Homo sapiens: one gene and its partners. The protein of the gene in region 1 interacts with the protein of each later gene in a pairwise test. Each region holds a gene or a part of one and is shown in the gene's direction. Other genes may lie near its edges.

What was found.
Region 2: the proteins of SYT9 (region 1) and TMBIM6 interact in binary tests that used the Homo sapiens proteins (3 or more experiments, as listed by UniProt).
Region 3: the proteins of SYT9 (region 1) and TMEM50A interact in binary tests that used the Homo sapiens proteins (3 or more experiments, as listed by UniProt).
Region 4: the proteins of SYT9 (region 1) and UPK1B interact in binary tests that used the Homo sapiens proteins (3 or more experiments, as listed by UniProt).

Annotation. Positions count from the first base shown.
Region 1 is NC_000011.10:7,254,229-7,262,280, forward strand, and holds part of SYT9 (synaptotagmin-9), read left to right. Parts: intron 1-8,052. UniProt on the Homo sapiens protein: May be involved in Ca(2+)-dependent exocytosis of secretory vesicles through Ca(2+) and phospholipid binding to the C2 domain or may serve as Ca(2+) sensors in the process of vesicular trafficking and exocytosis.
Region 2 is NC_000012.12:49,750,764-49,758,815, forward strand, and holds part of TMBIM6 (bax inhibitor 1), read left to right. Parts: intron 1-1,700; coding exon of another isoform or gene 1,701-1,730; coding exon 1,731-1,786; intron 1,787-2,209; coding exon 2,210-2,318; intron 2,319-4,871; coding exon 4,872-4,992; intron 4,993-7,463; coding exon 7,464-7,512; intron 7,513-7,619; coding exon 7,620-7,717; intron 7,718-7,919; coding exon 7,920-7,999; intron 8,000-8,052. UniProt on the Homo sapiens protein: Endoplasmic reticulum (ER)-resident protein that confers cellular protection as an anti-apoptotic protein by limiting multiple stress-inducing pathways surrounding the endoplasmic reticulum and mitochondria.
Region 3 is NC_000001.11:25,333,757-25,341,861, forward strand, and holds the start of TMEM50A (transmembrane protein 50A), read left to right. Parts: upstream 1-4,577; 5' UTR 4,578-4,700; exon of another isoform or gene 4,701-5,061; intron 5,062-6,717; 5' UTR 6,718-6,730; coding exon 6,731-6,823; intron 6,824-7,214; exon of another isoform or gene 7,215-7,278; intron 7,279-8,105.
Region 4 is NC_000003.12:119,176,049-119,184,100, forward strand, and holds part of UPK1B (uroplakin-1b), read left to right. Parts: intron 1-8,052. UniProt on the Homo sapiens protein: Component of the asymmetric unit membrane (AUM); a highly specialized biomembrane elaborated by terminally differentiated urothelial cells.

The DNA of each region.
Region 1 (8,052 bases):
CTTAAACTAGGACACAAGGGTTTTGAAGTAGCCCCATGCCCCTGTGGCTCTTTGGTTTTTGTTGGAAAGTAGCCAGCTCATGAGGACAGGGGTGGGGGTTTTCGAGTGCAAGGTGAGAGGAAATGAGGCCAAAGATTACATCCAAAGTGCACCCTCTCCTTCAGGACACTTCTCCCTTCATTTCCAAATCTCCCTTCATTTCCCTCCTTCCTTGCCTTGCCGACATTAATTCTTACATCAGATGCATTTGTCTTCATCCCTCTGAAGCAAGAGTGTCTTTAATCTCGGAACCCTAAAAGCTGAGTAGTAGAAAAGCTGCACCACACAACGCCGTGTGAATAATGTCCCTGCTGTTGATAGTGTGAACCAGAACAACCATGCACAGCAGCCCTGAGACATGGGTTCCTAGAGAGAGTCATCTCGGTAAATGGATGACTTCTTTTTCTGGAAAGGAATCCACCTGAATGCCATGTCCCAGCTTTCTCTGTTATTGTCCATTCACGGCCACCCTGTGATAGCTAGGTTTTCTCAAGCTGAACTAAGGACTTTGGTTATAAAAGGAGAAAAAAGATATAATTTCCTGTGGACAGCAAAGTGACCCTGCATCTAGGAAATTTACTCATTTTTTCAGAGGTGTGGAAAGACTAGGGCACAGACCAGCGGGCCTGAGCCATCAGAAAGGTTCTTTTTTGTCCAGGTAGTTATAGTGCCCTGTTGGGGGAGTACCGCACCCAGATTTCCCTGACTTGGTGTTCACAGAGGACTTGATGCAATTGTGGTTTAAAAAAATAAGCCTAAGTCACAGTTGGAACTGAAGTGCCTCACCCAGTCTGTCATCTGTACCAACTTGTGGAAAGGAAAGTGCTGAGTGTGAGCACTTTTGTCCATAGAAAGCAATTAGAATGCTCTGTTGGTTGCCTTTATGGTGTTTTATATGTTAATGATGTGGGACATAAACTTGCAGGCCTCAGAGACTAGCCTTTAAGGCAGAGGGAACAGCAAGCGCAAAGGCCCTGAAGTGGTAGCATTATTGATATGATTCTAGAAATGGTGACTTCAGAGGTGGCTGGAGAGGTGTGAAACAGATGGAGAGTGATAAGACGTGTATGGTCAAGAGTTAGAGAGGGTGGATCATGCAGAGTCTTGTAAACCATTATAAAGACTTTGGTTTTTACTCTGAATGAGATAGGAAGCCATTAGAAGGTGCTGAGCAGAGAAGTGACAACACTTTGACTGCTATGTTGAAGAGCAAAGGTGAAGTCAGAGAAACCACTTAGGAAGCTATTTCAGAAATCCAGACAGAGGTGATAGTGACTTCAACAGGGATAGTGGTAATGGAGGTGATGAGAAGTAATTGGATTATGAATGCAATTTGCAGGTACAGCCGCAAGTATTTATTGAAGGAAGAGATGTGAAAGGTGAGAGAAGGGCAATTAAGGATGCTTCAAAGGCTTTTTGACCTAAAAAATTCCATGTACAAGTAGAAGTCTTCAGGAAGAAGGTAGGGGTGAGGAGGGAAATCATGAGGTTTATTTTTTATTTTATTTTAACTTTTTGTAACACATTAAGTGTGTGATGCCTCTTTAGATAGCCAAGCTGTTTTACAGTTGAACAGTGACCTGAGGTATGACTATCCTCTTTAATGTCAATTGCTCTATGCTCGTATTTTTTAACTGGAGACTTCGCTGTCAAGAAGATTAATTGGTTATAGAACAGTATGTATTGTTAGAAGGTTTTCCTTGTAGGGAATTAAAAGGTCTCTTAAATTTCTACCCATGGATCTTGATTATACTTTTTTTGGTCAAAAAGCATTAGTCTTATCTCTCTTCTCCATCATACACCTTTGGCTATTAGGAGGTAAACTAGCCTAACTTATCTAGATCCACTCTTTCCAAGGAACAGAAAGGAGGATTGGATCATGTAATGACTAGGTCTTAAACATGTTTTTATCATTTTCTTTTTAAGTCTTTTCTTCTGTAGGGTGCCAACCATGTCTGTGCCAAGCACTTTATGTAGGTCATTTCACTAGTCCTCACAAGTCTTTTAAGCACTTATCTGTGTTCCAGCAGCAGCAGCAGCTGCTGGGAGCTTGTTAGAATTGGAGATCTCAGTTATGTCCCAGACCCACTGAATATGAATCTGTATATTAACAGGATCCTCAGGTGAGAGTTGTAGGCACATTAAAGTTCAAGAACCATGGCTAAAAGTGATTGATATATATGAGTAAACTGAAGTCCAGAGAAGTAAACTAGCCCAGGGCCATGGAGTCCATTTAAAAGAAGAATTGGGTCTAAGTGAAAGTAGCTTCTTAGGTAGTCACATCACATGTACTGAAAACTGAGGAGTTATTGTCAATGAAAATTTTCTAGGTGTTTTTCATAAGAGCCACCCTTAGACCTACTTTCTCTCTTCTGTACTTGTATGATGGATTTAATCCCTAAGTGTAGGTCACATTCTATGTAGTTGTAAAGATTCAGCTTAGTATTTTTGATTATGAATTCTGTTATCCAGGATACTGGTTTTCCATTCATGTTCCAACTCCATATTCTGGAGATTTTTCTGCATGTTCTCTGTGTCTGTACCCAATGTTTAGAAAAGGTTCAGCAGGTCAGAGTATGAAGCAGAGCCTTAAGACTCATGATTAGTGATTCTTCTCTCCATGTAAATATTACTCTATTCAAGAAAAGCTTTTTCTAGGTCATGGTTTTCAACTTTGGCTGCACATTAGGAATACTTAGGGAGCTGGAACAAACAAACAAAGAAAAAACAAACAACAGCAACAACAAAAACTACCAATGACTGGGCTGCACCCTAGACCAGTTTTAAATCACAGTCTCTGGGAAATGGGCCTGGTATCAGTATTTTTAAAGTTCATCTATTGATTCTAATGTGCAGCCAAGTAGAGAACAACCTTTGAGACCATTGGGCAAAGAATGCATCCGCCTAACCCTTCTCAGCTCAGCTCACATTTGTTTCTTGCAAAATTAGGAAAGATAGTATCAAAAACTAGGAACCTTGACTGTTACCCTGTACAGCTAGTGCCCATATCAACTGATTCTTAACTTTCTTTTCCCAACGTTATCCTACATTTTTCTTTTAAGGGCTCATTGAACATATCATAAGGCTCTATTATGTCCACCAATCTGAGAGGGGAAAAAACAAACAAATCAAGAAAAATCTTGTCTAAATAGTGTGTCATTAAAAGGTCAGAATATAGAACCTTCACAAATGTCACCCTATGTTAAATTATAATGAAGTCACTTATTAGAAAATGTACATGTAAAATAATAATTAAATATAGTTTCTATGAAAAAAATCTCCAAAATAATCATCAAGATTAAATATTAGCCTTGATTCAAATTTTTCTAAGGTAGTCAAAAGAGAATCAGTCTTGAAACACTGGATGTTTATGAATAGACCTTGGTGTGATTATGCACAATGGGATTAATTTTTTTAAATTAATGTTAATTGCAATCAGGAAAAAGAGTCTTCTAAGGAATGAGTGGCATATTGGATGCACAATATGTGAAGATCTAATTTGCATTTACTTCGGTGACATTTCAGGGCTCCTTCATAAATATTTTATTTAAACAAGTGTGTTTTCATCTCTGCGGGACTCCTCTACATGGACCAGTGAGTGGTTTAGTCATGAGGTAATTATCAAGAGGGGAAAACAAAAGCAAATTGTAGTAAAGGCATCACAGGCAGCCCTATGGCCAGCTGCCTCTTTCAAAATAAACAATCAAAAGCACAAACTTTTTGATGTGGGATAAACTCTCAAGGAAAAATTAAACTGACACCTAAAGGAAATCATCCTCAAATTTTCTATTATGTATAGAGCATAGATGTTGCTTTCACTGAAGTAGCATTGAGGCACTTTTATGTTTGTGCTGCAAGTGCAATTTCCCATATGGTTGGCTTAAAAACATTCATAATCTCTTCCTAACAGGTTGACTTGAGGGAACTAACAAGTTCACACTCCAAAGTGTATAGAGAAAGTGGAGGAGCTTAGTGAGAGGCATAAATGGGGGAGCAATCTCACTTTTAAAAGGACAAGTATGGAGTATGTATTTCTATTTTCTGAATGAAGTTTGAATAAAATCACCATTTGTGGAGAAGTTTTCAGTTTTCACTGCAATCTTGGAGCAATAAATGTGCATCACGACTTCCTTTTCTTTCAAATGTTTATTTGGTGGGCTCTAGGAAGGGCTTTAGACCACATCAAATCCTGAGGACCAGGCTTTGCAGATCTCTTTGAAATCTTCATATGGCCTTGCACATGTATTTTATCACACAAAAACTTTAAATCAACATTGATAGAACTGCACTTGAAAGAAAAAAAAATCTTCTAGGACATCAAGATGACAAAGTGGAATAAGCAAGGACTTTGGAGTTAGAATCTGACTGCACTTACTACCTTAGTGACCTTGAGTAAAATATTTAACTCTTCATTTTATTCATCTATAAAATGGGAGTGGAAGATTGCTGTAACATTGTGCCCAGAGTAAATGCTCAAATAAATGATCAATAAATTGATGTTGTTGGTAGTATCACCTGCCCATGTTTCCTTTCAGCCGTGGTCCACAAACATGTATATGTTTTACCATTTGTAATTATTTGTAGGCTAAATTTACTTTCTACTTTTTTGTAAACTTAGCATTTTATTACCTCTTATTAGCTGTGTGTTCCTGGACAAGTTATTTAACCTCTGTGTCCTCATTTTCTCATCAGTAAAATGTATTACTAGTATCTGGGTTACTAGTTACCCAGATAAAATACAGGCTGCCAGTTCAATTTGAATTTCAGATAAACGACAGGGAATATTGCATGGCACATAATTATACAAAACAATCATCTGTTGTTTATCTGAAATTGAAGTAGAACTGGGCATCCTATATTTTTATTTGTGATGCTGACAACCCTATACTAGTACCTATCTCGCAATGCATGCGAAATACCATAGTACCTGGTATATGCTCATAGTAATTACACGTAGTAAATGCTCAATAAATACTAGCCATTATTTCTATTATTATAATTTTCCCATTGTTAACACTTATTAGTACGTAATTATTATTGTTGTGATGACTATGTATATTCCAAGAATGGGTATACCTTTTTTATTTAACCATTCTTTTGAGGCTATTCTAGCTTGTAATTTTTTTTTAGTGTGAATAATGTCTTGTATTTATAGTCCCCTGTTTCCTTTTGGGAAAATTTTTTCATGATAAATTATAAACAGTGAGCCCTAATTGCTTTCTGGTAGATCTATGTTAGTTAGTCCTGCTACATGTCAACAGTAAATCCGCTAGCATTAGGTGTATAATGTGAACAAAAGGTTGCTAATTTAACATGGTTTAAACAGCTGCTTAGTTGTTTCAATTTGTGTTTTTTTTGTTGGTAAGACTGAATATTTTTTGTTTTGAACCTTCTTATATTTACTCTTAAGTGAATTTTTTGTGTTCTCTACCACATTCTCTATCATGTACCAGTTTATTTTTTGAGAATCTTAATGTTTTTTTCTACCAATTTCCATTAATTAGAATGTAAATATTCTGTCAAATTAGCTCACAGAAGGAATATTGTATAGTGAATGAGCTCAGGTTGTCTGACTATAATCAACCCATTATATTAAAGTGTCTTTTGAAATTTCAGGGGTGGTTCAATAAATAGGGATTCGTTGTAACACTCTTTTCCAATGCAAAATGCTGCATTTATTTATATGAAATATGAAAAAGTTGTTATAATTTGAATCTCTTTTTCTTTATGTTTTCTTTCCCACTCCAACCTACCCCACCCTACCCTTGTGCAGCTGTTACTTAACCACGTTGAATTGATCAATCTTTTCTAGTTATAATTAAGTTAAATTCCAAAAACATTTATTGAGGGCCCCTTAAGTGCTATGTACAAGGTTGGGCATCTGTCATTCAAAGATACATTAGACATGCTTACTGCCTCTATGGAATTGACATAAAACAATAATGGCAATTAATAAAATCAAGAAGGGAGATATCTACTGGATACAGTACAGAAAAAAGAGGAGAGAAGTAATTAGCTGACTTGAGTGGATCTGCAGAGGCTTCCTACAGAAGTCTATTCTTGGGCAGAAGAGTTTGTCTGGAACTAGTTGGTGGGAAGAGCATTCTAGGAATTTACAAAGGTCCTAACACAGAAGAGGATGGATCCTGGGTAACAGTAAGTTGAGTGTGTGTTGGCAATGTTGAGAGATGGATCTGCTCTAGTAAACAATGGTCAAATCAGATCACGAAAGCCCCTGTATGCCATTGCCAAAAACCCACTGAGGACTAACTGGAGCACTCTGACACAGAAATCTTGAAAGAAGTACAATTTATATCATAAGCCCAAAGCAAAGCACACCAGGAGATTTCAGTTCCATGAATGCAGCTTCTGAAGTCTTCCTGGTTCCTTATGGAAAATATACTCAGGTTACTGGCAAATATGTTCTTTCTGTCCAAGGTAAGGTCCTAACAGATTGGAATCAATGAATGGAAGTTTACCCATTTTAGATCCCCAACATATCACCCTGAAACCCAACTGTAATTACCTTGAATAGTTGTAAATACTGCCTTTAGCAAGTTTAGTCATCTGGTTCAAACATCTGGATTCCAGATATAATTCCTGACTATGCCAACAGTGACATCTTGCTTCCTTGCCTGGTTATTTAGTAATGAAAAAGCAGTGTGTTCAGCTGCATTGTAACTATCCAGTCTGTGGATGTGCACAGTCTGTTTTCTCTGAAGTTATAGGGCCCAAGAGGGAATACGCATGGCAGGCCTGCCTAGTGCCCACCAAGCCACGCTGTAGAGATAGTTCTTTATTGTGTGTACAGGGTCTGCCAATTAACAGGCATAATTTTAAAAAATAATTGAATTGAATGCCCTTAAGTGGGTCACAGGCTGTCCATTTCTAATATCTGCCTCCTCGTCCCCACCACATACATGTACACTTTGCTTATCACATTTTTGGGACATGCCTGCCTATTGAAGACATCTTAGTTTGTATCAGCTGTAGCACTGCAGAACCATTAAAAGAGTTTACGCTGAAAATTCAGGTGAGTTTTATCCCTTAATTAGGTATTCTGGAGACAGGATAAACATTGATTGGAGAGGTTATAGTAGGGGATGCCAGTTATTTGCTCACCATATATTTATTGAGCATCTACTAAGTACCAGGCTCTATCCTAGGTATGTACAAATGTAGATACCTAGACACAGTATTGTACATACAGTAGGGAATGAAACAGAAAATTAAAAGTTTGCCCTCATGAAACTTACATTTTGGGAAAATGATAATAGGTACATAAATTATATTGTATGTTAGATAGTAGTAAGTGCTAAGGGAAAAAACAAGGCATGGAAAGAGATCAAGACATAAAGACTAAACTGGCACCACTGAGAAGTTGACAAATGAGTAAAGGTCAGAAGGAAATGTGGGAGCAAGATACACACGTAGCAGGGGGAAGAGCGTTCCAGGCAGGAGAGCGGCGGGTACAAAGGTCTCAAGGCAGGAGCATGCTTGACGTGTTCAGATATTAGCCAAGGGTTAGTATGACTGTAGTGAGGTTGGCAAAAAGAGAGTAGTAGTAGATGAGGTCAGAGAGGTGATGGCAGACTGATTGTAGGCCTCTATAAGCCATTTTAAAAAAGTGACTTTTACTTGCAGTAAGATAGGAAGCCATTAGCAAGTTTTAACAGAAGAGAGATAACATCTGACTTAGGAAGAGAAAGGATCACTCTGACCAGCACATAGAAAACAGACTATAGGAGGGGAAGGTTGAAGTTAGGGAGAGGAGTTATAAAGCTGTTGTAATCATGTAGGTGAAAGATGGTGGTGGCTTGGACCAGAGTGATAGCAGTGGAGATAGTAGGAGGTGGTCAGATTCTGGGTAGCTGGAAGGTGGAGATGACAACATTTACTAATAGATGGATATTGAGTGTGAAAGACAGAGAGGAGTCAAGACTAAGACTGTGGCCTGAGCAGCTAGGAGAATAGAGTTGTAGGAGAAGTAATTTTGAGGGGAATGACCAGCAG
Region 2 (8,052 bases), on another chromosome or scaffold:
TTGTGATTGTTTCATTTGTGGGAGAGAGCCTCAGGAAGCAGATGATGTTTATATCTTTCCACTGGCCCAGGATTCCTTAGGAAATTTGTTTGGGGACTGTAACTTTTATTATTACCTAGATGAATTGTTCTGAGTGTTGGGCTGGGTGCTGATTAGAGTGCTTCATTCAGTAGGTGGCGTTTCACACAACTTTATGTTTGAATCCCTTCCTCCCTGCCCCTCCTTTTCTGGTAGATTTAAAATGGATGGGCATTATGGCCCTGATAGGAGTTTGGAGGATTTATATTTAGAAGAGATGAAAGTTCTTGACTGGATCTTTAGTACTGTAGATTGAACACGTTTACTTAGGATTGCATGTGAAATAGGGGAGGGAGCAAAACTTAAGAACTTGACTTTATGGTGTTGATATGATCTAACCTGGATATAGTTCAGTTTAAAAATGCCCTTTTTGACATTGGGACAGTTGGCAAAAATCTGAATAAGGTCTGCAGATTAGAAATAGTATTGCATTAGTATTAATATCCTGATTTTGATCATTGCTTTCAGGATATACACACTGAAGTGTTTAGGAGCACTGTGTCTGTATGGTTAGGGAAAAAATATTTTTACATCTGTCTATATATTGCTATATAGAAAGAAGATGAAGCAAATGTGAAATATTAGCATTTAGGAAATCTGGGTGAAGGTTGTACAGGAATTCTTTGTACTGTTCTAACCTTTCTGTAGGAAAGGTTCTGAAACTGTCAAAAAAATACCCCCCAAAAAATCCTCCTTTCTGCATAAATTCCTTTTTTATGGAGGTAGGAACCTCTCTTTTTTTAAAATTGTGAGTCCTTTTCAGTTCAGTTCTTAAATGTGTTAGGTTAAGAAAATTTGATACGCATATATTTAAAATGCAAGTCTTAATGCCAGACCCAGCTTTATAGTTTTTGTTTGTTTTGTTAAGACTAGTCAAAGTTTTGTTTTTTATCTTTGAGGTGCTGCTAGTGAGATAATTTTTTTTTTTTTTTTTTTTTTTGAGATGGACTCTTGCCCTGTTGCCCAGGCTGGAGTGCAGTGGCGTGTCTTGGCTCACTGCAGCCTCTGCCTCCCAGGTTCAAGCAATTCTTCTGTCTTAGGCTCCTGAGTAGCTGGGATTACAGGTGTGTGCCAACACACCCAGCTAATTTTTGTATTTTTAGTAGAGACAGGGTTTCACCATGTTGGCCAGGCTGGTCTCGAACTCCTGACCTCAGGTGATCCGCCCACCTCAGCCTCTCAGAAGTGCTGGGATTATAGGCCTCAGTGAGCCACTATGCCCAGCCAAGGGAATTCTTTAGCATCTTGAAACAATGACATAAAATTGCTTTATGTGCCAATGTCTAGGTTCCTTTAACTAGATTGTTAATTGAGAATTTCTTTTATAAACTTACTGCCTTTTAAAGTGGCAAATCACCTGAAAGAATAGAAATCAGATGATAGTAACAAAATAGTTTGAGGGAGAAGAAGATGCATTCAATTCCTCTGTCGTCTTTAAGATGGTTGACTATGATTGCAAATATATTGTAGGACACATAAAAATAAAAATGGTTGTGTTAGGGCTGTAGAATTTTAGGCAAGTTTTCATCTTTCTGAACTTACATGTTGCTTTTTTTTTTTTTTATAAGCTGTTCGTGTGATTCTGTATGACTTAATGACTCTAACCTTTCTTTATTCTGCAGAGTGGAGACTGCTGCACGGACTCTGGAACCATGAACATATTTGATCGAAAGATCAACTTTGATGCGCTTTTAAAATTTTCTCATATGTAAGTGTTTTGACCTTGACTGGTTTTGTACTGCATTTCTTTTCATATCTCTTTGTCCCTTTTCTGCATTTATAACTTTTGTGTGTATAAGCTAACAAATTAACTTGGCCAGAATCCAGAGGACCTGATGAAAATGTCCAAATTCTACACGTTGCTGTGTGGTTATTGGAAAGGCATTTATTCTAGTTTGGGTACTGATTATTCATAATTTTGGGCATTTGGTCTTCCTCAGCATTTAAGGTTCTGTTAACCTATTTTCAAAATATTATTTTTTATTGTAATATGCTTTCCTAAAAGTATTTCAAACTATTTGTAACAGAACTTTTACATATTCCCAGGAAGGGAAAGAGAGAAATGATTCTTCTTAGCTTAAATATGAGATTGATCTGGGACTGATTGCTCTTATTCACATTCTTTTCTTAGAACCCCGTCAACGCAGCAGCACCTGAAGAAGGTCTATGCAAGTTTTGCCCTTTGTATGTTTGTGGCGGCTGCAGGGGCCTATGTCCATATGGTCACTCATTTCATTCAGGTAAGAACGATTTTCTCTCCTGGTTGCTGTGGTACAAATTACATTAGGAAAAAACCAGCTCAGCAAGGTGGTCCAAGGGACCCTGTTCCTCTCTTTAATCTTTATCAGTAGTTTAGGATTTAAACTCAGACATTAAATCAGGACATGTAAAGCCATTTTAATTTTCTGGCAACTGTGCCCCCTCTAGATACCGAAAAACAGAATGCCTTAACCTTGGCACTGAATGGTGTGCTGCTGACGTACAAGACCCCCACCCACTGAGTAGGCGCATGGCATGCATGCTGGGATTCTTTGGCACAGAAGCTTTTTTATCTTTTCCTCCATTCTTCCTTTACAAAACTCTGATTGTGTGATTAACTATCAGGAGAGGCAGGATTGAGATCTTTTTAAGGAATTGACCTGTTTTATTTTCCGATAACTGTTGTCTGCATGGTTGGGTAAAAACCTTCAACAATTTGTTTTCCTGTATTGAGAGAGAATCTGGGTTTGGTCAGCAGGAGTAGAAGGTACAGTTTGAGGAATAACCAGAAAGTTTGAAGACTCCCTAACATAGTCTTGTGCCTTTGTAGAGTATTCCTTTTAGCATAAATGTAGAGGTGGGCCTCTGTTGGCATTTGCCACTGTTGAGAACTATCCTTATGTTCAGGCATCTCCTGGCAGGGATTGTGTGAAAAATTACTTTAGACACTCAAAGGATAGGGCTTTGATCGCTTGAGTTTTAGGCAAGGTTAGCCCTTAAATAATTTAGTAAAATACAGTCAATCCTTGTTATTCACAGACTCTATATTTGTGAATTCACCTACTCATTAAAATTTGTAACCCCAAAATCAATACTCATGGCACTTTTTTTTTTTTTTTTGAGACAGAGTCTCGCTCTGTTACTCATGGCACTTTTTGCAGACAGTCACAGAGTGGTGAAAAAGTTGAGTCACCCTGCTGTTGCAGTGTTTTCAGCTGAGGTTGAACAAGACAGTGCTCTGCCTTCTTGTTTCAGTTCTCGTATTGTAAACAAATGTTCTTTTCATGGTCATTTAGTGCCACTTCCTTTGTATTTTTGTGCTTTTAATTGGTGATTTTGCTGGGTTTTTTGAGTGGAGGTCTTGTGGTGTCGTCCTGACTGGTCTCAAACTCCTGGGCTCAATTGATCCTCGCACCTCAGCCTCCCAAGTAGCTGGGAATACAAGCACATGCCACCATGCTTGGCTTAATTTTGCTGTTCAGAATGCAAACAGCATAGTGCTGAAGTGCTGTCTAGTATTCCTGAGTGCAGAAAGACCGTAATGTGCCTTATGAAGAAAATGTGTATATTAGATAAGCTTCATTCCGGCATGAGTTGTACTGCTGTTGTAACTGTGAGTTCAATGTTAAGGAATCAAAAATAATGTCAAATGAGGTGTCCTTAAACAGAAACACATATAAAAGCAAGGTATCTATTGATCATTTGATGAAAATGTTGTGACCTTAGGCTTGCAGGAACCTACCTACCTTTTATTTCCCTCAGGAACAAGGGTTTACTAATTCATTGTCCACTGTGATTTTATAACATAAACACTGAATAATGAGAATCAACTTCTTCCTTTAAAGGAAGGAAGGAACTTCAGTGTCTACGTCCATCCTTAATGATTTCTCTTTTTTCTAATGCCTATAGTTTTTCCCACTTGGCGTTTTTAAAAAAAGAAACACTTTTTTCTTACTACAAAGCTAATATGTGTTCATTTTAGAAAATTCAGAAAACAGACTAGCAATGAGAAGGAAGTATTTTAGAAACTTCCATAATCCCATCATCCAGAAATAACTACTGTTAACATTTTAGTACTTTGCAGTCTTCTGTATATGTATGTGTCTTGGTGTTTTGGTGTTTGGGGGTTTTGTTTGTTGGTTTTTGTTTTTTTGAGACGGAGTTTCACTCTTGTTGCCCAGGCTGAAGTGCAATGGCGTGATCTTGGCTTACTGCAACCTCTGCCTCCCTGGGTTCAAGCAATTCTCTTGCCTCAGCCTCCTGAGTAGCTGGGATTACAGGCGTGTGCCACCATGCCTGGCTAATTTTGTATTTTTAGTAGAGACGGGGTTTCTCCATGTTGGTCAGGCTGGTCTCGAACTCCTGATCTCAGGTGATTTGCCCACCTCGGCCTCCCAAAGTGCTGGGATTACAGGCGTGAGCCACCATGTTTTTTTTAAAGTGACCAAAGGGGGATCATTTCTATTTGTTCTACAGATGGAATGTACTTTAAGCACTTGTCACGTTTCATTCATCCTTTCTATTTTTTGGGCAAGACTCACTCATAGTTTGACTTGGGTAGTTGTACTGTAGTTGAAGGACTACGCAAGCCAGAAGAGCCTCCAGCATCCACCATGGTCCTAACTCTGTGCTTCAAGGCTTCTGGGTTATCTCCTCAGCCCCATCCCTGAGAAAACACTACTTTTTCTCCTGCCTCCAGGTTATAAGCAAATGTTAGGAAGTTCAGACGAGTGTTTGAACCCAATAAAGGTCTCTTGCAAAATAAATTTGAAACTTTCAAGTGTTTAATGATTGATTGATTCTGACTCTAACAGGCTGGCCTGCTGTCTGCCTTGGGCTCCCTGATATTGATGATTTGGCTGATGGCAACACCTCATAGCCATGAAACTGAACAGAAAAGACTGGGACTTCTTGCTGGATTTGCATTCCTTACAGGTACGTTAAGGGATTTGTCTAATTTTGAGGGGTGAGCTATATTTTCAGTATCTCTTAATTAGTTCCCCCCCCTTTTTTTTTCTTTTTTTTTTTTTTGAGACAGAGTCTCGCTCTGTTGCCCAGGCCAGAGTGCAGTGGCTTGATCTTGGCTCACTGCAAGCTCCGCCTCCCAGGTTCACACCATTCTTCTGCTTTAGCCTCCCGTGTAGGTGGGACCACAGGCACCTGCCACCACACCCGGCTAATATTTTGCATTTTTAGTAGAGACGGGGTTTCATCGTGTTAGCCAGGATGGTCTTGATCTCCTGACCTCATGATCCGCCCGTCTCGGCCTCCTAAAATGCTAGGATTACAGGCATGAGCCACCGTGCCTGGCCCTTTTTTTCCTTTTTTTTTGAGACAGTGTCTCCGTCTGTCACCCAGGCTAGAGAGTGCAGTGGCGTGATCTTGGCTCACTGCAAACTCTGCCTTCCGGGTTCAAGCGATTCTCCTGCCTCAGCCTCCCAAATAGCTGGGATTACAGGCATGTGCCACCATGCCCGGCTAATTTTTGTATTTTTAGTAGAGATGGGGTTTTACCATGTTGGCCAGGATGGTGTTGATCTCTTGACCTAGTGATCCACCCACCTTAGCCTCCCAAAGTGTTAGGATGACAGGCGTGAGCCATAGTACCCTGCCTCCTGGCTTTTTTTTTTTTTTTTTTTTTTAAGATGGAGTCTCACCCTGTGGCCAGGCTGGAGTGCAGTGGCGAGATCTCAGCTCATTGCAATCTCTGCCTCCCAGGTTCAAGCGATTCCCCTTCCTCAGCCTCCCAAGTAGCTGGGACTACAGCGGCTAATTTTTTGTATTTTAGTAGAGACGGGGTTTCACCATGTTGGCCAGGATGGTCTTGATCTCCTGACCTCGTGATCTGCTCGCCTCAGCCTCCCAAAATGCTGGGATTACAGGCATGAGCCACCACACCCAGCGCTTTTTTTTGTTTTTTTGTTTTTTTTTTTGAGACTGAGTTTCACTCTTGTTGCCCAGGCTGGAGTGCAGTGGCACGATCTTGGCTCACTGCAGCCTCCACCTCCCAGGTTCAAGCGATTCTCCTGCCTCAGCCTCCCGAATAGCTGGGATTATAGGCATCAACCACCACGCCAGCTAATCTTTTGTATTTTTAGTAGAGATGGGCCACTATGTTGGCCAGGCTGGTCTCGAACTCCTGACCTCGTGATCCGCCCACCTCGGCCTCCCAAAGTGCTGGGATTACAGGCATGAGCCACTGCCCCTGGCCCTAATTTTGTATTTTAGTAGAGACGGGGTTTCACCATGTTGGTCAGACTGGTCTCGAACTCCTGACCTCAGGTAATCTACCTGCCTCAGCCTCCCAAAGTGCTGGGATTACAGACGTGAGCCACTGTGCCTGGCCTTCCTGGCCTGCTTTCTAATCTCATATAGGTTCATTTTGTTTCCCCATCCATTAGGGGAAACTCTGTGAGTAGCCACTGTGACTCTACTTTTGTGTCCAAAAATAGCCATTGTGTACTTGAATGAATGAGGTTCAAGAGCTTAGGTAGCATAACCTATTAATAGTAGGCATAGAACTTTTAATAAACTAGACTTGAGAATCCGACATAGTTGCACCCATACTGGCAATTATCATAGGAGCTTCTGTTCTGAGTCTTACAGACAGTGCATTAAAGCTATACATTGAGATCTATTGTGCAGGACACTTTGCTGATTCTCAAAAAAAGAAAGGCACAGCTCTTCTAGAATTGTCATAAAGGAAACAAGACTCAAGCTATGTAATAAAAATGTTTGCAAAACATTTGAATTAGAACAGCTTGTTCTGAGTGACAGTCTAATATACGTAGGAGAAATTTTAGAAAGGAAGAGATTTAGGGATTAAAATTTTTGCATCAGGGCAAGCTAGTTTTTGAAGGCATTAAGGGGTGGAATTATCAGAAGGAAAGAGGAAAGTAATTAGAACGAAAGAAATGTTAGAGCTGGAACAGGTTGCCCTCCTGTTGGCAGGTGTCCACCTGCAGAACCAGTCTCACCTTTCTTTGCTACAAAGGGGAGTCAGTCCTACATGACTATAAGGTTGCTGGCCACGAGGCACTGTTTTGCTCTTTATCCTTTTTTTCTAATTCCTGATCTGGCCTATATTACCATCTTACATCACTCTAGCTCTGAAATGTTTGGCATGCCTACTTTATTTTCTTGTAATCTCTGTACCCTCCCTGAGGTCATCCATGATTTTCAGCTAAGAGGACAATTTTGCAGCTATTTCTATAAAAAAAAAAAAAACAACGCAGTCAGGTATACATTTTATTGAAAACAATTACAGCGGAGGGGAGAGAGATTTAATTCTTTAGTCCACGTTTGTTAAGAGCATGAGTATGCCTATATTTCGGGATCAGCTTTTGGATGAGGATCCTATTCAAGAATTGATCGTAATACTGTGTTCTGGGTTTTCTGTTTTCTAGGAGTTGGCCTGGGCCCTGCCCTGGAGTTTTGTATTGCTGTCAACCCCAGGTAACTCTTTTGGTAGTGTCTTATGTGCTTTTATCTTTATGAATATACCTTCTAAATGTAGACCGTATACCTGTAGCCCTTAATCTAATGGTCTTTTTTTCTAACAGCATCCTTCCCACTGCTTTCATGGGCACGGCAATGATCTTTACCTGCTTCACCCTCAGTGCACTCTATGCCAGGCGCCGTAGCTACCTCTTTCTGGGAGGTAAGTGTGAACTGGGAAACAGGGAATGGGGGCTCCTTTTTAGCCAGAATTCTCACTAGTACTCCTTCCTTACCCCTAACTCCTTTGCGACTATTGAGTTGAGATTAACCTTCATTCTGGGGGAAGTTAAGGAATGGCTTTAATGGGATTGCTTTACTTTGCCTTGGCTTCTCTCAAGACAGCTTTTTGCTGTGTCTTATAGGTATCTTGATGTCAGCCCTGAGCTTGTTGCTTTTGTCTTCCCTGGGGAATGTTTTCTTTGGATCCATTTGGCTTTTCCAGGTAAGACTTAGCCTGGAACTTTCCAGCAGCCATTTGCCTCACACTTCTTTCTT
Region 3 (8,105 bases), on another chromosome or scaffold:
GGAGCAAGTCACGTCTTACGTGGATGGCAGGCAAAGACAAAGACAGCTTGTGCAGAGAAACTCCCCCTTATAGAGCCATCAGATCCTGTTAGACTTATCACTATCACGAGAACAGCACGGGTAAGACCTGTCCCCATGATTCAGTTACCTCCCACTGGGTCCCTCCCACAACGCATGGGAATTCAGGATGAGATTTGGGTGGGGACACAACCAAACCCTATCATTCCACCCATGGCCCCTCCCAAATTTCATGTCCTCACATTTCAAAACCAATCACACCATCCCAACAGTCCCTCAAAGTCTTAAATGATTTCAGCATTAACTCAAAAGTCCACAGTCTAATGTCTCATCTGAGACAAGGCAAGTCCTTTCCATCTATGAGCCTATAAAATCCAAAGCAAGTTAATTACTTCCTAGATACAATGGGGGTACAGGCATTGGGTAAATACAGCCATTCCAAATGGGATAAATTGGTCAAAACAAAGAGGCTACAGGCCCATGAGAGTCCAAAATCCAGTGGGGCAGTCAAATCTTAAAGCTCCAAAATGATCTCCTCTTGACTCCACATCTCACATCCAGGTCACGCAGATGGAAGGGGTGGGTTCCCATGGTCTTGGGCAGCTCTGCCCCTGTACCTTTGCAGGGTACAGCCTCCCTCTCAGCTGCTTTCATGGGCTGGCATTGAGTGTCTGCAACTTTTCCAGGTACACGGTGCAAGCTGTCGGTGGATCTACCATTCTGGGGTCTGGAGGACCTCTTCTCACAGCTCCACTAGGTGGTGCCCCAGTAGGGACTGTGTGTGGGGTCTCTGACCCCACATTTCCCTTCTGCACTGCCCTGGCAGAGGATCTCCATGAGGGCCCTGCCCCTGCAGCAAACTTCTGCCTGGGCATCCAGGCATTTCCGCACATCCTCTTTAATCTAGGCGAAGGTTTCCAAACCCCAGTTCTTGACTTCTGTGCACTCGCAGTCTCAACACCACATGGAAGCTGTCAAGGCTTGGGGCTTGCACTCCCCGAAGCTACAGCCCAAGCTCTACCTTGCCTCCTGTCAGTCATGGTTGGGAGTGGCTGGGATGCAGGGCACCAAGTCCCTAGGCTGCACACAGCATGAGGACCCCGGGCCTGGCCAACAAAACCATTTTTTCCTGATATCTCTGGACCTGTGATGGGAGGGGTTGCCATAAAGACCTCTGACATGCCCTGGAGACATTTTCCCCATTGTCTTGGGAATTAGCATTTGGCTCCTGTTACTCATGCAAATTTCTGCAGCCAGCTTGAATTTCTCCTCAGAAAATGGGAATTTTTCTTTTCTATCACATTGTCAGGCTGCAAATTTTCCGAACTTTTATGCTCTGCTTCCCTTATAAAACTGAATGTCTTTAACAGCACCCAAGTCACCTCTTGAATGCTTTGCTGCTTAGAAATTTCTCCTGCCAGATACTCTAAATCATCTCTCTGAAGTTCAAAGTTCTACAAATATCTCGTGCAGGGGCAAAATGCCGCCAGTATCTTTGCTAAAACATAACAAGAGTCCCCTTTGCTCCAGTTCCCAACAAGTTCCTCATTTCCGTCTGAGACCACCTCAGCCTATGGACTTTATTGTCCACAGTGCTATCAGCATTTTGGGCAAAGCCATTCAACAAGTCTCTAGGAAGTTCCAAACTTTCCCACATTTGCCTGTCTTCTTCTGAGCCCTCCAAACTGTTCCAAACCCTGCCTGTTACCCAGTTCCAAAGTCACATACCCATTTTTGAGTATCTACGGCAGCACCCCACTCTACTGGTACCAATTTAGCCACTGAAGTAGTTGGAGAACAGAAGTAATAGACTCTGGTTTACATTGTAAAAGCTTCTCTGTGGCTGCTGTGTGAAGAAAATATATGAGAATGAAGCCCCAAGATGAAGCAGGGACACAGTTGCAGTGGTTAGAGTAAGAAATGCTGCTGGCTGGCACTGAAGTGATAGCCTGGAGGTTTGTGTGTGCACATGCATGTGTATGTGTTTTACGATAGTAGGCCCAACAGATACTGTAATCCACACTTGTTTTTTTTTTTTTGAGACAGAGTCTCACCTGTTGCCTAGACTAGAATGCAGTGGCACAATCTTGGCTCACTACAACCTCCACCTCCCAGGTTCAAACAATCCTTGTGCTTCAGCCTCCCGAGTAGTTGGGATTACAGGTGTGTGCCACCGTGCCCAGCTATATTTTTTGTATTTTTAGCAGAGATGGGATTTTGCCACATTGGCCAGGCTGGTCTTGAACTCCTGGCCTCAAGCAATCCTCCCACCTTAGCCTCCCAAAGTGCTGAGCCACCACACCTGGCCGCAACTGATTTTTAATCATGAAATGACACATACATTTAAAAAACCCAATACCTATAATATTCCTGGCTAGTACTCTTCACATCTATATCATCAAAAACAAAGAAAGTATGTGAAACTGACACAGCCAAGGGGAGACTAAGGAGACATAACAATTAACTGTAATGTGGTATTCTGGAGGGGATCCTGGAACAGAAAAAGACATTAGGCAAAAAACTAAAGAAATCTGAATAAAATGTGGATGTCAGTTAATAATAATGTATCATATTAGTCCAGTAATTGTAACAAATATACCACAATAATGAAAGCCATTAATTATAGGGAAAATGGAGGGGTTAATATGGGTGGCTGGCTTTTGCTATTTCTAGCAGCTCCATTTTATCTACAAAAGACAAACATTCATTAAGTCCCAAAAAGGTAAAGAATGACAAATTAAGCATGTATCTTATTAGTAAGAGTAATATAAAGATGCTCACTCATATTTATAAATATTTGACAATCATGTTAAGGCCAGAAAAGAGAAAAAAGGGTAGGGGCAAAAAACGCAAAGAGAAAGGAGTTAGTATCTTTTCTCCCGCACTCATTAGCTATTAAAAGAGGATGTTTGTTTAAAGCTGCTCAGAGCTGGTAAACTAATGTTAAGTCACTAACGGGAATTTAAAAGGTTTCATTAAGAACTGCCTGCACTAGATTCCTCCACCCTGAGACATTAAACAATCACGATAAACCTCCTGAGTGGTAAGAACGTGTCCATTTAAAAACAGGCTATAGATTGTCATGCAGTTTTATCTACTAATCGGCTAATGCACCGCCAAAAACAAACAAAAAAACCCAAAGGGATGAAAGTTTCATCCATCAAAGGAAACAACAGTCACCTTGGTTCCCATCCCACTCATATACTGCCGCCGTACATGTCAATCAGATGAACCTGTGCGTATCTCTTAACGACAATTGACCCACCTTTTTAACTGAAGTGAAGGGGGGTTCTGCTCCGCGACCACTTCCTGGATCTCTCCCTTCACCCTCTGTGTTCTTTCGGGTGCACCATCGGGTCAAAGCCGCAGCAACGCCGTCTCTGTGTGATCGCATGTGCCCTTCTGCACACGACCTTCCCCCGAGAGTGACCAGCTACCGGACAGGCACCAAGGAGGGCTACCGAGCACCTCCCGGACCGGCGGCTGCAGGATCGCGAGCGCCTCCGCTAGGGAGACCGCACGTTGCGCCTGTGCTTCCTGCGGTGGCGCCTTCTGCAAGGAGACCTCGACCCTGCTCCCTCTCCGGGGCTGGATCTGACTCCTTGACGGTGATTCCAGACGCGAGACCCAAACTGACGGCTTCTAGAAGAGGGGCGAGCCCGGCCGCAAGTCTTTCACGTAGCTAAGTCATCGTTGCTTCCGGCTTCTTACCGTTCTCCCCTTTGTAAACGGTTACCTCCCGAAAACCCAGGCTCTCCTCCAACAGTGGTTCTCAAGCGAGGCGATCTTCCCCGGGAGGGGATATTTGGCAAAGTCTGGGGGCATTTTTGGTTCACTGGGGCTGCTACTTGCATCCACTGGGTAGAGGCGGGGGATGCAGCTACACAACCTGCGAAGCACGGGACAGCACCCTCCCCAACCCAGACAGAATTAGCCGGCCCAAAACCTCAGTAGTGCCCAGGCTGAGAAACCCTGCCTTAAACAAACAACAAAGAAAGGCCAAGTCCCATAAGTGGGTCACCGCGCCGAGACTGGGGTCCACGGGACACCCCAGCCACGCCAAGCCGGGAAGTCCCCGCCTCCTGGAGCTGAACCCGCCCCTCTCCCAGAGGTGGAGCTGCGGGGGGCGGGAACAGGCACGGAGAAAATAAACAAGACTAAAAAGTCCTGAGTAGCGCTGTGTGGCCGCAAACCTGAACCCACCTTTTGCACCACGCGGGACCCGGCACTCTTCCTGCCACCCACCCCTGAGAGGGCTGCGCGGCCGACCCCAGTACTAGAAAACACTCGTCACCTCACTCAAGACGGGTACGAAGGCCAACGGACGCCTTCCTTTAGAACGCTCAGCACACAGAGCAACTTCTCACGCCTACTCTCAAATGGCGTACTCCAAACTAGCACTCCCGACGTCCAGCTGTGAACCCAGAGCGGCGGAAAGCCCCTGAACCCAGCGCCCGGGCATGCGCAGACGCGTTGTTGTGGTGGGCGTGGCTCCCTCCGGACCCGGCGCCCCGCCCTCCGCCCCGTGTCCGCATGCGCGACTGAGCCGGGTGGATGGTACTGCTGCATCCGGGTGTCTGGAGGCTGTGGCCGTTTTGTTTTCTTGGCTAAAATCGGGGGAGTGAGGCGGGCCGGCGCGGCGCGACACCGGGCTCCGGAACCACTGCACGACGGGGCTGGACGTAAGTGTCGGGCGGGGAGTGGGGGTAAGAGAGTAGCGGCCGCAGGCTGGAGAGGCCTCGGAGCCGGGGCCGTCTGACGGGCTGGTGCCCACAGCACAGGCTCGTTGCCGCCACCCTCCCGGAAGCCGCAGACCCGGGCTGAGCCGCCGCGGACCTCTCCTCTCCTGGGTCCGGCGGCGCCAGGAGAAGGCGACGGCGTCCAGACCCCGCCAAGACGGAGAGGGGACCGCGCCCTCCCCCGGGACACCCCAGGATCCCTGGAAAATCCCCCGATCCCCCACTTCACAGCTGGACAAGCCGAAGCCCCGAGAAAGGAGCGTGACCCGGCCAGCTCCCTCAGCGAGGGGTGCCCCGGCTAAAGGTGGCTCCCCCATCTTCCAGCGGCGTCCCTCGAGACCTAAAAGTCCCAGAGTTTGGAGGGCGGGGTCTGGCTTGAGCGTACCAGTCGTCGTGCAAAGAAAAATGGATTCGGGGTGGGGCCATTGGGATGAACCGAAAATAACACTTATTGAATTGCAGTTCTTCCCGGGGAAGAATCAAATGAGTGAATTTCCTAAATTGAACTTGTCCCAAAGGCATCTTAGCATTGGCTGTAATCATATATTTTAATATTTAATTTTTAAAAGAGAAGTTAAAAATGGGAGACGTTGCTCTATTGTAGGGTGTCATATTTTTGGACAACCATAATTGCTGGCTACAAAGTATCTTAAGGAAGTCAAGTTCGCTGTAGGAGTTTGGGTGTTGTTATTCGCAAGTTATATGTATTTCAGGCTTTTTCATACTCTGAAATAGAGATAACATGGCTGTATCTCAGGTCTCTACTGCTCGGCTTACAGGAATGTTTTATATAATTTGTAAAGACAGCTTGGGTCGGCTATATTTAAATAGCAGTTGGATTTTTGTAATCTGAATTACTATTAACCACGATTCTGTGCTTGCTTTTGGCTGGAAACACCCGTTAGGATCAGAGATAGGGATATTAAAGTGGATGTTCTTTATATAGAAATGACACCAAAAGGCAGGCTTGCAGAAAGAAAAATAATGAATGAAGTGAAAGGAAATGATGTGGGTAGAGGTAAGAACTGCAGTGCAGTGTTTAATTTCTTGATTTAGGTGTGAAGAAACACACGTTCTGTGATAAAATATGTAAATTAGAGAAATATTTTTCATTTGAATCTGTAATTCCACTCAGAGCCAAAGTTTATCACTTGTCTCTCTACTAATGTTAGTGCTCCTGGACTGTAAATATCAAATTCATTTAATAAGTTTGGAATCAAAATGATACAAAAGAGCTCCTGTGGATTAGTAATCATATACTTGGTATTAAAAGTACCACCTAAACTAATTTAATACCTACTTAGAAATAATAGGATGTGACAGATTTTCAGGAGGAGGTCAACCAGTAGTTAAAATTTTTTCAATATTTGGAGACCCACCTTTGTTAATACTGCTTAAATATATCCAAACCATTTATTTCTATTTATTTATTATTATTTTTGAGACAGAGTCTTGCTCTGTCGCCCAGGCTGGAGTGCAGTGGCACGATCTCGGCTCACTGCAACTTTCGACTCCCAGGTTCAAGCGATTCTCCTGCCTCAGCCTCCCAAGTAGCTGCGATTACAGACATGCGCCACCACCCCCGGCTAATTTTTGTATTTTTAGTAGAGATGGGGTTTGCCATGTTGGCCAGGCTGGTCTCAAACTCCTGACCTCAGGTGACCCACCCACCTCAGCCTCCCAAATTGGTAGGATTACGGGCATGAACCACCACGCCCGGCCCCCAAACCATTTTTTACATTAAAAAAGATACTAAATGAATCCAGATATTACTTTCCAAAGTTATAATGTGGAAATTCATCAAAAACTAAATCAAATATTCTGAAGAAGTATGTGGAACCAAAATAAAGCATTTGTAATTTCACTTTTATCTAATTATTCCTGAGCTATTAATTATTTTTCGGGCTTGAAGCAAGTAAATGGAAGTACTTATTTAATTGTTTGTTTGTTTGTTTTTAAGTGACCTGAAAAAAATGTCTGGATTTCTAGAGGGCTTGAGATGCTCAGAATGCATTGACTGGGGGGAAAAGCGCAATACTATTGCTTCCATTGCTGCTGGTGTACTAGTAAGTGTCATTGATTATTTGGGCCTTATTTTTTGGTGCGTTTGTGTTTATGGGTTTTGAATTCTGCAGGATGTTTTAAAATATGTACTATTTATTTTATCTTTGACCACTTTGACCATGTTGATATTTTGTTGTTTGTGGAGAGTTATTAGTTCCACTTTAAGAGTTTATGGTTTAAAATTTGATTAACAAGTGGTTGGGTTGTTTTAACTGCATGGTAAAAATGGCATAATAAAACATTTGTTCATTATATGGATTATATCTCCTTTTAATGAGTATATTAAGGTACAAGGAAGTGTTTAAGACGCAGTCAGGTCAAAACCAGTCAATAGATGTGATTGCATTTCTCCATAATCCAGTTAACTTTCTTCTCAGTCTCAGGGAAAAAAAAGTGCTCGCTTTGGCAACACATACACTAAGATTGGAATAATACAGAGAAGATTAGCATGGCCCCTTAAAATTTTTTTTTAAAAAGCAAAAACAAAAAGGAAACTCATTAAAATACATTGTGTGGAAGTAATTTACAGAATAAAATTCTTATTTACACTTCAGATCCCTCAAGGGATCTGCTATTAGTTTTTTATGATCATATGGTGTCGTAGGCTCTAAAGAGTAATTTTTTATTTTTATTTTTTGAGATAGAGTTTTGCTCTTGTTTTTTTGTTGTTGTTGTTTTTGTTTTTTTTGGTTTTTTTTGAGACGGAGTCTCAGTCTGTCGCCCAGGCTGGCGTGCAGTGGCGCAATCTCAGCTCACTGCAAGCTCCGCTTCCCGGGGTTCACGCCATTCTCCTGCTTCAGCCTCCCGAGTAGCTGGGACTACAGGCGCCCGCCACTGCGCCCGGCTAATTTTTTTGTATTTTAGTAGAGACGGGGTTTCGCCGTGGTCTCGATCTCCTGACCTCGTGATCCGCCTGCCTCGGCCTTGCAAAGTGCTGGAATTACAGGTGTGAGCCACCGCGCCTGGCCTTGCTCTTGTTTTAGTAGAGACGGGGTTTCTCCATGTTGGTCAAGCTGGTCTTGAACTCCCGACCTCAGATGATCTGTCTGCCTCGGCCTCCCAAAGTGTTGGGATTACAGGCATGAGCCACCGCACCAAGCCATTTTTTCTTAAGCTTTAAGATTTATTTATTTTCGAGACAGGGTCTCACTCTGTCTCCCAGGCTGGAGTACAGTGGTGAAATCACTGCTCATTGCAACCTCGACCTCCCGGGCTCAGGTGATCCTCCCACCTCAGCCTCCGGAGTAGCCTGGACCACGGATGAAGGCCACCACACCGGGCTAA
Region 4 (8,052 bases), on another chromosome or scaffold:
ATCTCCACACCCATCTTTACTCTGAGCCAAGGAAGTGTCTGTTCTTGTGCTGAGTTTCAGGGTGAGGGCTAAGGCAATCGCATATTGTGTTTCTTTGTTTCTTCCTCTCCTATTTTTCCTTTTCTTTTTTTCTCCTTTGTTAATTCAAATTTCTCTAGCATGAACTAAAGTTTGAGGTGTGGTTTGTGTGTTCTCTGGTACAACAAACTTGGGTGAGGAAAAGAGGTAATGAACTTGAAAAAATGATCTCATGCTTACTGGGCGAGTCTCACTTCTTTTTCTTCTGCTTTGCAAATTGGTTTGTTTAGTGAGCAATTGTTTTTAGACCTTTCAATGTGTCTGGAAACATCAACACTACGGGTATGATTAATTTTTATAGGAAAACAAACTGAGTGAAAGCACAATAAAGAAAAAACAAGAAATATAATTCTAGCTTTAAAAAAATCTGCACTCTTTAAAGCAAAGGAACTCCCAGGGTATTGAGCAATTTGAGTAAATCATCATCATACCAGGCCACAGGGCAGTTTTCCCACAGGGCGGGGTGCACAGGGGCTATTCCTTTACATGGAAAATATTTCGAGGTGAGTTGCGTACTTTCAGTCTGGGGCGTTCCATCTCTAACGCGGGCAGTTGCTGCTCTGCCCTCTGCCTTCCACCGCTTTCCACTTGTTAAATGTAACTCATCCCATTGGTTTCCTTCCCACCCCTGCCAGATAAGTAATCCAATATAGTCAGGGAGGCATTGTTTTAGAATAACGTGGGGAGGGTTCAGAAGACCACATATCTAAAACAGTTTCTACATACTGTGGGCTAAAAGAGAAGGCAGGAAAGAGGACACATCATATCATTAGAAGTCAGTATAGCCAGAGAGACAGACCCAAACCCCCAAATCATAAGTTACGAGGTTTGTCTTTTTAGGTTCTACCCTCTCCTTGGGTCTCTTTCCTTCTCATGGTGTCTTCCCTCGCCCTTTGAAAATTAAATAAGAGAAGGGAGCTGATAAATGAGGCATTGACATGGATGGCTCATGAAACTCAATGTGCCTCTTTTATATGAGCTTGCATTTTAATCAGGAATGAAGGAGTGAGTCTCAAATTGTGGCATTCAGAAGTTAGGGTAAACGGTGAGGAAGCCTTTGAATGAAGGAAAAGGATAGAAGGCTTTCTCCCTGCCAGCTTTGTTTATGTGGCTCCCTTTCTGGCTTATCTTGTAGTGAGTCTCATGGGTAGGCTCACAGGTGGGAGGTCAAGAGTTTCTCTTAATTTAAAAAGACGTAAAGGGAAGTGGATCTCCCTACCTTAAAAAGAATAATCATTAGTGACAAACCCCATAGAAGGCTGGGTTAAGAGTTAGGAAACCTGGACTTGAATCTTAACTCTTTTAATAACACATCATGATCGTGAACAAGTCACTTTCTCTCTGTGAGCCTTAAATTTCTCACCTGTACAAAGCCTCCAAGTTTGCAGCCAGAACTGATGTATCATGCCGTGAACAGGCACCTGGCCAATAACTGTCCTAGGATGAATGACACTTTAATGTCTCTCAAATTACATATCTTCTAAGACAAACAAAAACTACCAAAAGTGTAGTCATTGACTTCTAAGTGTGACACCCGTCAATTAATTTAAAAGTTTATAATTTTGCTTTTTAATGCAATTATTTGTTAAATTGGCTTTTTTGATGCACAGCAATCCAATTTTTGTGGCTTCAGAATATCTTATTAAACAAACTTGGGTGAAGAAAAGACGTAACAACGTACCAGACTATATTGCTGTGGCAGAGGCTAGTATGGAAGAAAAGCCATAAACACATATCCACAATGGTTTCAGCTTCCCTGGAGAGCTATTTGCTATAGGCAGAGAGAGGGATATAGGGAAGGAAGGATAATTCTGGGTAAGAGAAGTTGAGGAGAGAAGAGGTTTTTCAGCTGGGCTTCGGAAGGTGGTAAAGAGTTCGATAGGCAGAAATGGGAGAAGGGATTCCAAAGACAGGGACACCCTAAGCACAGCATGGTGGCATGACCAGGACACCAAAGGGTTGGGGGGGTGGGGCACGCAGTGAAAAATGGCAGGCAGGCCATTTAGAACCTGGATGGGTGCTGCCTTGAATACACACTGAGGAGTTTGTACTTTATCTCTTAGGTGGTCCAACCACTCCTCCACTGGCTGAATGGAAAATATAATAGTTGGGTCTGGCCAAATACTATAGACTGGTCTTTCAGAAGGGAACAGGAGCAAATCTGGATTCAAAGAAACTGGTCAGCAACAGAGAGTGGGGGGACAAGTGATGAACCTGGCAATAGGAAGTAAGTAGGAGCTGGTGGCTGGGCTTGTAAGTGCAGAGGGAATGACCGAGGGCTCTCCTTTGAATTTAGGCTACAGGGAACCTTTGAAGGGTTCTAAGCAGGGGGGAGATATAAATTCAGAGCTGTGTTTTAGGACAGTGGATCTCAAGATTGGCTAAGTGGCTGGCACTTGGAAGCCATGTTTATCTTTGTAGAATACCAGAAAATTTTGGTCTACTAAATTTAAAATAAGTAAGTAGATCATTTTGGCCTAAATTCATACCAAAAACTAGATTTTAGCATAGACAGGTGGTAGTAGCATCCACAATTTAAGAAAAATGTGTAAGAGGAAAATGTTTAAAATCACAAATTTTTATAGTAATTTTTCCTCAAATTAGGAAATGACTGGAATCATTCAATATTGGCATCAAAACATGTTGTCCCAGTAAATGGAACATCTGTGTTTTGGAGGATCATTTGAGAACCTCTGCTTGAGAAAGTTCACCATGGAAGCACTGTATGGAATGGAAACAGAAAATGTTTAATTCATCTGATCCAGAAGTTAGGGGCTGGCAGTGGGAATTGGTAAAATGGTATCAGGAGACATCAGAAAATGATCATATGTGCTTCTATCAAAAATATACATCAATCCCAATTGGGATGGTGTGTTACTCAAGGTTCTTTCAGAGATAGAACCAAAAGGAGATACATAAAGAGAGAGAGAGGCAACGTATGGTGGCTCACGCCTATAATCTCCACACTTTGGAAGGCCAAGTCTTGAGGACAGGAGTTCAAGACCAGCCTGGGCAACATGATGAAACCCCTTCTCTACAAAAAATTTAAAAATTAGCCAGACATTGTGCATGCACCTGTGGTCCTAGCTACTTGGGAGGCTGAAGCAGGAGGATCACTTGAGCCTAGGAAGTCAAGGCTGCAGTGAGATATGATTGTGCCACTGCACTCCCTGGGTGACACACAAAGACCCTGTTGAGAGAGAGAGAGGGAGAGAGAGAGAGGGAGATATATATATATATATATATATATATATATATATATATATATATATTAATTCTAAGGAATTAACCTATGTGATGTGATTGTGGGGGCTGACAAGTCCGAAATCTATACAGCAGGTGGGCAACCTGAAAATTTGGGGAAGAGTTGATGTTGCAGTCTTTTTTTTTTTTTTTTTTTTGAGACGGAGTCTCGCTCTGTCGCCCAGGCTGGAGTTCAGTGGCCTGATCTTGGCTCACTGCAAGCTCGGCCTCCCGGGTTCACGCCATTCTCCTGCCTCAGCCTCCCAAGTGGCTGGGACTACAGGCGCCTGCCACCACGCCCGGCTAACTTTGTATTTTTGGTAGAGTCGGGGTTTCACCGTGTTAGCCAGGATGGTCTCCATCTCCTGACCTCGTGATCCACCCGCCTCGGCCTCCCAGAGTGCGGGGATTACAGGCGTGAGCCACCACGCCCGGCTTTTTTTTTTTTTTTTTTTTTTTTTTTTTTTTTTTTTGAGACGAGTGCAATGGCGCAATCTCGGCTCATGGCAAACTCCGCCTCTCCCGTTCAAGCGATTCTCCCGCCTCAGCCTCCTGAGTAGCTGGGATTACAGGCATGCGCCACCACCCCCAGCTAATTTTGTATTTTTAGTAGAGACGAGGTTTCTCCGTGTTGGTCAGGCTGGTCTCGAACTACCAACCTCAGGTGATCTACCAACCTCAGGTGATCTGCCCACCTCAGCATCCCAAAGTGCTGGGATTACAGGCGTGAGCCACCGCGCTTGGCCTGATGTTGCAGACTTAAACCTAAAATCTGCATACTGAAAACTTAAGAGTTTCTCTGTTACAGTCCTCTTAGGGCAGAAATGCTGCTTCTTCAGGAAACATCAGTTTTTGCTCTTAAGGTTTTCGGCTGATTGGAGGAGGCCAGCCACGTTATGGAGGGTAATCTGCTTTACTGCTTTACTCAAAGTCTACTGATTTAAACGTTAATCACATCTAAAGAATATCTTCACAGCAATATCTAGACTGATATCTGACCAAACACCATATCCAAGCCAATCCCACCATATCCCAGCAATATCTAGACTGATACTGACCAAACACCATATCCCAGCCAAGTTGACATACAAAATTAACCAGCGCAAGGTGTTCATTACAATACTTCTTTATCAGGCAGGCAGAGACAAAACTCAAGAAGCTATTAACAAAGGCAAAACTACTACCAAGCCCTAGAGAACACCACAGTTTATATTCTGTGTATAGAGAAGTCACCATTTGTCCTTCCCTTTTGTTCTTTCTCCGTGCCTATCCTCTATGGAAAGGTCAACAAATTCATAATGTCTTTTTTTTTTTTTAAATATCCATTAGTGTGGAACTGTGTCAAAGCTTTTCTTTTTTAACCTAAAAAAAAGTGCATTACTCTACCCCTATGCACAGGCATTTATTAATCTTCAAAGAACCCTAAACATCAGCCAGGCCTGATCTTTTCCTTTTGTAGAAATTATGTCACCTTTCCTCTAAGTGTGCCAGGAAAGCAGCTCTTCCTAAAGATCCATCCAGCTAATGTATTATAAAAGTAAACTCACTTGTCTCAGTTTTCCAGGACTTTTCTAGACATCTTCCATTGAATGAGGGGCAGGGGGAAGTCTTTGACACAGACTTTGTAAGGTCAGCTTACACGTTGTGACCAGTTTTTCAACATCACTTTTGAGTGTCCTCTTACTTCTTGGGTAACTGTCTTCTGAGCTCAGTAATTTGCCTATTTCTTTCTTTTCCTTTAGCTCTAGAATAGTAGTTTCCAATCGTTCTGGGGCTAGCTATGTGTTTAGGAGGTTTAGAGCTGGTGAGAAGATGCTCTGTGAGCCCAGGATTCCTACTCTCGTTTCAGCCAGAGAAGTACCATTCTGATCTGATTTCATATATTAGAGTTCCCTACTGAAATCATATTTCCCTATTTCCTTTGAAAATGTTGCTCTGTATCAAAAAAATAATAATAATAAACCACTGGTTTTAGGTACCTTCACCAACCACTGGGCTATTAGCTCTAGTCTGTCTCCTTTATAAGACAAAAATAAGCAAAATTAGTATTGGGTAACTAATATTGTATTAAAACTTCACATATATTCTCATTTAATTTTCATAGTAACCCTTGAAGTTAAGTATTACTATACTCATTTGAAGATAAAGCTCGAGAAGATTAAGTAACTTCTTGGGGTCACAAAACTAGTAAGTGGTAGAGCTAAGATTCAAACCCAGGTCTATCCAAAGCCCACATTCGTTCCACTTCACCATATTCTCTAACTTGCTCTTCAACAAAGTTCTAGGCAAATTATTAATCTGCACACTCATTTATTCAAATAAACATTATTTATTTACTTTATCTTTTTATTTAGCAAAACAATTGAGTGCGCCTACTACATGTCAGGTACTATGCCACTTTGGACCTAGAAAGACAAATAAAACAGGGTCCCAAATGCCTCCTCCTACTTTGGAGACTCTTGCAATAAAGTGCAGGATGCCCTTCACAGGTTGGCAATGGGAGGAAAGAATGCAAAAGGGCAGCAGAGCAGAATACTCTCTGAGTAATGTCTGTGTCAGGGAGAAAGTGGCCCCAGGACAAGGACAACCTCAGGGGCCATCTCTGCATCAACTTGCAGTGTGGGGCAGAGGCCTTAGAGCTGGCCAAAGGCAGAGGGATGAGGCCCAATGGCGAGTGTTAACTGTTCAGGAATGCTAATGGCATGCAAGGCGGGCCCCTCCCATGTGGATGTGCAGCTTGGTACCTGACTCTGGCCGCACCCCAAGCACAACTAGGAAGTGTTTTTCCTTTTCTCTCATGAATTCATCTATGGAAAATAAAAAGAAGTACAAATGGGTATCTTGTGTAAGCCCTCCTGGTCCCTCGAGCAGAGCAGCCCCTGTGCAGTGAACAGAGGGAAGGTGGAAGGAAGGCTGCTTCTCCTCAATCTAAGAGCCCTTGGCTGTGAGACCAGTCACTGTTAAAACCTCCCTTCTATCCCCCTGGGGTCACTGATATATAAAACAAAATCATAACCCAATACCCTGCCCTTCCTAAATATCCTCTGGTTATAATTAATAGTTTCTTATATGTGTAAACAATCTTAGTGCTTACCTATTACTTTTGTATCTTTTATCTCATTTAGTGATCACAGCAACTCCATCTAACAAGTTATTGTCTACTAATTTTATAAACGAGGAAGTAGATACTAAGGAAAACATTGTCCAACTTTACACAGTAATGATAATGACAGCACAAAGCTGGGACTTGAACTCTGGCATTCTGATGCCAAGTCCAGTGTGGTCACCATTATACTACAGATATTAGACTATGCTGTGAGCCACTGGAAGCCTACACTTGGCTCCCTCTTGACATCTGTGGCCATTTGGGGGATGCAGCAAATGTTTTAGGTCCTCTGGACACCAACCTAGTCTAAAATACAAGTGGCCAAGTAGAAGCTATGAAATGCTAACCTCTCATTGACTTGCACATTGCACATTTTACTTCTAAGAATTCTGGTCTTGGGGGTAGGTGGATGAGCTGTAGATTTTTGATACATCCAGACAGGTTTTCTGGAAAAGCATGTGGGTACAGCACTGAGTTTGGGGGAAATATGCAAATATGAGCATCGTGTCCAGGGGCTAAAGAGACAAGAAGCTGGAGATGTAAGTGAAGAAAAGCCTAGTGTTTCTGACCTTTGCAAAGGTAGAGTCTCCTGAGCAGGGAAATGTGTCTGTTCTCTCCACTCCAGGTGTTTCTATTTCTACTGAAAGCATTTGCTATGTAGCAAGACTTTATAAACTGTAGAGTGTTTAGCAAATGATCTGGCGCCAGGCAGACCTGTGTTTCAGTCTCAGCTTCTGCACTTTCTAGCAATGTGGCCTTGGGCAAATTAATCTCTCCAAGCTTCCCTTTTTTTTTGTTTTTTTTTTTTTTGGAGATGGAGTTTTGCTCTGTTGCCCAGTGCAGTGGCCCAATCATGGCTCACCACAACCTCCACCTCCCAGGTTCAAGCGATTCTCCTGACTCAGCCTCCCAAGTAGCTGGGATTACAGGCACCCGCCACCATGCTCGGCTAATTTTTGTATTTTTAGTAGAGACGGGGTTTTGCCATGTTGGCCAGGCTGGTCTCGAACTCCTCACCTCAGGTGATCTGCCCACCTCAGCCTCCCAAAGTGCTGGGATTACAGGCGTGAACCACCATGCCCGGCCCCTTTTCTTTATACAAACAATGGCAAGACAACAGCTTCTCCCCCTAGATCCTTCAGAAGCAACATAGCCCTGATTTTAGCCTGGTGAGACTCATTTTAGACCTCTGCCCTCCAGAACTGTAAGATACATTTCTGTTATTTTAAGCCACGAAGTTCGTGGTAATTTGTTTCAGCAGCAATAGGAAATGCAGACCTGAAAAACCCATCTCTCAGGTCTGTTGAGAAGATGAATATCAAATGCCTAACATAGTGCCCAGAGCATTGTAAGTGCCCAATAAATGGCAGTTTTCATCACTATTTCCTTATCTTGGAAGACAGGAGTAGCTAAATTATCATGTGCCATTGATACCAAAGGCCTAAGGGAGAAGAAGAGAATGCATAGTGAAAAAGGAGAACATTTTAGTGGCCAGAAAATTCAGAATATCTTGCCCACTGACATATCACCACCTTCCAATAACCAACCCACAGCTGGGCTGCCTCCCTGGCATTTCTGTCATGTCCTTGCCTAGGTTTCTTCAATTTATGCTTTTCTTTTTGCTC